Regions from separate parts of the Homo sapiens genome. Here region 2 is linked to region 1. Evidence: fine-mapped QTL for protein levels in blood plasma. A gene starts in region 1. The other region holds a variant in brackets. All regions are shown on one strand. Distances are from middle to middle.

Region 1 (2,500 bases):
AGCAGTAGATTACTAAGCTCCTTAGTTATAGAACATTCAATGCATAGGAAAGTGTTTTTCCTACAAAGCATAACTGAAATGTAGTTTAACTAATGGTTTACAATTCAGTCAAATACCAAAGCTGCAAACCATTTAGGGAGTCATCAATTACATATTTTGTACACTTTCAAAAAGCTTACAGCTGGGATGGGTTGTTTATTTTCAAAGCATGACTGCTTTAAAATGATCATATTCTTTAGCCTGCCACCTAGGAAGCATTAAGCATTTACTTGCAGAATGAACAAACGAGCACGTTGTCTTGTGTTATGAAGTATATAATATAGTTCGTTTTAGTTTCTTCATTCGCAGACTATCAGGCTCATTTCACGTGACTGCTTGCACTTAGAACTGAGTTATCACGGAGTAGGAACTCTCCAACATCGTCGTCATAGACCAAGAGATGCCCATGAACAGCCATGAAAGTGCCAGTCAGGGAAGTATTCAGTGCTTTGTTGTAGAGTTGTTGGATAGAGGCACAGGATCATTTCATGTTGTTGAGGAGAAAGGAGCAACAGCCTCCTCCCACCTTATTAAAAATAGAGATTTAAAAAAACCTCTAATTTCCTCGAAGTACAGAATCTCAAGAGGTAGCTCTAAGGAGAATCCCTCTGGGTTTGAGCGCATTCCTCTTCCAGGGGGCCTATTCTTGGACTGCTTTCCTTAATAGAGAAATCTCTCTGAGCCAAAATCGGCCTCCCCCAATTCCATCCTGTCGGCCCCACTTTTCTGCTTCGGAGACTTCCAAGCCAGTCCCCACTCCTCCTTCAGCCAGTCGGGCCCGCACCCGCGCCCGGCAGGGCCAGCCCTCTCCTCCTCCTGCGTGGCGCAGCACAGGCCCTGAGCGCGCGACCCCAGGCCCTGGGCGCCCCGCCGCATGCTCGCGGCTGGAAGCCCCAGTTTGCGTGGCCCTTCGGGTTATTCCGCTCAAGAGCCGCCGCGTCGCCCCATCTCGGCGCGAATCTGAAAGCGCTTTCGGGGGAGAAGATGTTGGGGGCACTGGTGAGTACACTGCACAAGTGACAAAATGTTTTCAGCTCCTGGAGGCGAAAGGTGCAGAGTCGCTCTGTGTCCGTGAGGCCGGGCGGCGACCTCGCTCAGTCGGCTTCTCGGTCCGAGTCCCCGGGTACGAGGAAAGACCACAGGGGGCTTCTCGCGGAAAAGCGGGCCGCGGACCCTGCGCGGGCTGGCTGGGGCGGGCGGATGACGAGGCGCAGGGGCAAGGGTGGGTCTGCGAGGCGGCGGGTCCGGGCGTCTTAGGCTCCGGGGCTCCCTCGCTGGCGGCGGAGCAGGGATGGCGCGCCCGGGGGTGAGGGTGCGGCGGGTCACAAGCACTCGCAGCCCGCGGCGCAGCAACCCGGCAGGCACACGCACACGTGCACGCGCGCCCCGCACCCGCCCCCCGTGCGGCCCCCGGCTCGGGGCGGCGGCGGCGGCGGGGGCCGGGGGCGCGCGGGCCGGCGCCGGGCTGGGCCCCGGGGACCCCGCGGGCGGCGGGCAGGCGGGGAGGGCGCTCTGGGGCCCGCCCGCGCGGCTCCCATCCTCCGGGCCGGCCTCTGGCTCCGCGGGGCGAGGGGAGGCGCCCGCCGGCTCCGGGCGCCGCGGGCGGGACACGGGCGCGGGGCGCAGGCGGGCTCCTCCGGCGCGTGCGGACGCTGAGCGTGGCCTGTCCCTCAGGTCTGGATGCTGGTAGCCGGCTTCCTGCTGGCGCTGCCGCCGAGCTGGGCCGCGGGCGCCCCGAGGGCGGGCAGGCGCCCCGCGCGGCCGCGGGGCTGCGCGGACCGGCCGGAGGAGCTACTGGAGCAGCTGTACGGGCGCCTGGCGGCCGGCGTGCTCAGTGCCTTCCACCACACGCTGCAGCTGGGGCCGCGTGAGCAGGCGCGCAACGCGAGCTGCCCGGCAGGGGGCAGGCCCGCCGACCGCCGCTTCCGGCCGCCCACCAACCTGCGCAGCGTGTCGCCCTGGGCCTACAGGTGAGCCGCGGGCGCGTCCTGGCGGGGCCCGGCAGGTGGGGAGGGCAGGGCTGGGCGGGGAGAGTGGGTGGGGCCGGGCCGAGGCCGGGCAGGCGGGGAGGGTGGGGCGGGGAAGGGGAGGTGGTTGGGGCGGGGCGACGCGGAGGGGGCGTGGCACGCGGGGCGAGGCGGAGCAGGTAGGGGTGGGGTGGTGCGGGGCGAGACAGGGTAGGGTACGGTAGGGTGGGGTGGGGTGCGAGGGGCGCTGCGATGAGGCGGGGTGGGGCGGGGCAGTTGGAGCACTGGGGGGCAATTCCTAAACTGCGAAGGCCCACCCCCACCACCTCCCTTGAAGGAGTCCTGCTTCCTCTCTTTACCCTCCAGTATTTCCTATGCAACACGTATCTCTTGAACACCTCATCTCCTCCAGGTTGGATGGGTCCGCAAGGCACTAGCTGGGGACCCTTCCGTGATGTGGACACAGTGATGTGGACCGTACTCTGCACAGGGGG
Region 2 (2,500 bases), 14 kb after region 1:
AAATCTTTCTGGGATTTCGTTAGAATTGCACTGACTTTATAGATTAATTGGAATTTTCCAAGACCTTAGAGACTCAATGTATTGCCAGTGTCTTTTCTAAGCATAAAACATTGGTGAAAATGTCACATGATCAGTCCTGCCGTTAGGAAATTGTGGGAAGTGCTCATCAAATCCATCTCCTTCACTTTGCAAAGAACCAGGCAAGGTGGAGTTCTCTGCCCAAGGTTACTGGGTGGTGACTAAGTTGGGCTACAGTTTTAGGTCCCAGACTCTTAATGGCTGCATCCTCCCCTTTTAAGAGAGTCTGCTGGGTTGAACTCATTGACCTTCGGATCTGGCGAGCCACGCTACCGAGGCAGGCTGTCTCCACGGACACATTTCGGTGCTTGTGGGTTCTAGCCAAGATTGGAGAAGGCATTGCCCCCACTTTGTTCCTGGGATGGGGTCTTTCAACTGCTGTGAGATAAACAGTCATCCTGAGCCCCTGCTGCTCTGAAATCATTTCATGTTTTGCAAGGTGGGAGGGTGAGCCACATCAAGGCGCGTGTGCCAACCAGCGCCCCAGCTATCCTTGGGCATCAGTTAGAGGACACATCAGGTGGCCCGATCCTCCCTCGGAATGTGTTCATTGTTTTCAGAGCTCCGGAGCCGCTTCAAATTGTTTCCTACCGCGTCCGGCCCCAGGGGCAGGGCTCTTTTTCTGTCTCTGCTGTCACTTACATTCCTCTCCCAGCTCAGTTTCCATCACCTCTAATCATCCCTGGAGGACTCGTCCTTTGTTCCTGGATTAAGCCGGGCCACCTGTCACTCGCTCAAGCCAAGCTTCCCACGTGGCCAGGGACACTTCTGCGATCCCATCAGAGGGGAAAACTTGATGTGTTTCAAGAATGCCCTGGTGCCAAGCTTCTGCAGAGCAGCACGCAGAAAATGTGAAGACAAAAGAATGACTGCCCACAGGAGGCGCGGCACAGGGCAGAACTCTGCTCGGTTGCTTGTCCGTGTTTGGTAAGAGAAAAGGCTCCCGTTGCAGTTTCTTGCTGTTTCTTTTTGGTGGCAGCTTTCCTTAACCGAAAAGCACACCTAGCTGTTGATGTCCCCAGACTGCAGGCAGGAGGCTGGGGTGAGGGACTTCAGCTCTGAGTCTGTGCCAGCGAGGGCCCTAGGGCTTCTCTCATGACCTCTTTCCCAGGCCCCCGCTGGATCCTTCCAAAGGCACAGGCCTTGTCTTTCTGCTTCTCTGGGACTGCAGGCCTCAAGCCCCCGCGCCCTGGGCAGCAGGGCATGGTAGATGCGCGGCACCCCCCTTAGCGGCACCTTCCCATTGTGAGAGAACTGCCTGAAACCCGCCCCTGTTCATGCCTCTGATCTCCCATGGCCCACGCAGCCATGGGGGGAGGTGTCTTGTCAGAGGCCTTACTTAGCCCAGAGGCATCCCAGCGGCGGGGGCAATTTCAGTCCCAAGTCCAGTGCAGGGCTGCGCTGTATATTTTTAGGCGGATGAAACTCTGACCCTCACCGCATCCAAGTGACTGTCAGTTATCACCTACAAAACTACCG[G/A]GGGTGACGCCTGAGTGACAGTTGTTCATGAAGAACCCAAACGATGGTGAAATATGAGCAGTTACCTACATACCGAGGGCACGGAAAGACCAGTCCCAGGTGACGAGAACTCAGAGGGCCGGGCGATGCCCTCACGTCACTCACCCCACCCGTGAAGAGACTGAGTCCACAGAGGAATGCCTGACCCGCCCGCCCGCCTTTGGTTTTCCTGCGGCACATCCTCGGTACTGTTCTGACAGCCTTTCCAAAACCACATCTCACGTGTGTGCAGCTGCCCGGTGCCCTTCATGAGTTTCCAGGAGCAAGATCACATACAGACTAACTGCTGTGGTCTCCAGGGCTCCTGTGCACCTCTCGAATAGCTCACCATGACTCCAGCCTGCTGCATGCCGCGTGCGTGTGAGCACGCAACCTGTCCATGCTTACACACACGCCCACAGATGCCCACGCTCACACGCACCTGCCCACTTACACACACACGCCAACGCTCACACACATACGTGCCCGTGCTCACACACCCGCCCATGCTCACACACCCACACACACCTGCCCACGCTCACACCTGCCCCCACACACCTGCCCACACTCAGACACACTTACCCCCCACCCACACACCCGCCCATGCTCACACACCCACACATACCTGCCCATGCTCACACCTGCCCCCACACACCTGCCCACACTCAGACACACCTGCCCCCCACACACAGGCCCACGCTCACACACCTGCCCACTTACATGCCCACGCTCACACACACCTGCCCACTTACACGCCCACGCTCACACACACCTGCCCACTTACACACATGGCTACGCTCACACACACCTGCCTGTGCTCACACACCCGCCCATGCTCACACACCCACACACACCTGCCCACGCTCACCCCTGCCCACACACACCTGCCCACACTCAGACACACCTGCCCCCTCACCCACACACA

Direction of the effects. Alleles are on the strand shown, and positions count from the first base shown. The strength of an association depends on the size of the effect and on how common the allele is.
For the plasma level of the protein whose gene starts at base 1,417 in region 1, G is the low allele of the variant in region 2 and A is the other (moderate association).

Evidence for each region. A credible set is the group of variants that fine-mapping cannot tell apart. PIP is the posterior inclusion probability: the model's chance that the variant is causal. Protein levels are from antibody-based Olink assays in UK Biobank. Linkage for the fine-mapping came from a reference panel and not from the study's own genotypes, which makes the PIPs less certain.
Region 2: its variant is the best candidate, but not a certain one, in a credible set for the plasma level of the IL17D protein (UK Biobank, PIP 0.74).

Annotation. Positions count from the first base shown.
Region 1 is chr13:20,702,283-20,704,782 of GRCh38, forward strand. It overlaps IL17D (interleukin 17D), which reads left to right and starts at 1,417. Exons shown (of 2, transcript NM_001385224.1): 1 at 1,417-2,009. The coding sequence starts at 1,720. RefSeq lists silencers at 799-878, 1,299-1,438, 1,729-2,238.
Region 2 is chr13:20,716,365-20,718,864 of GRCh38, forward strand. All of the region lies in intron 1 of IL17D (interleukin 17D), which reads left to right. Among named protein-coding and RNA genes, the nearest start is that of IL17D, 14 kb to the left of the region's middle. RefSeq lists an enhancer at 361-1,075 and a silencer at 1,186-1,480. The variant G/A (reference allele first, on the strand shown) is at 1,558.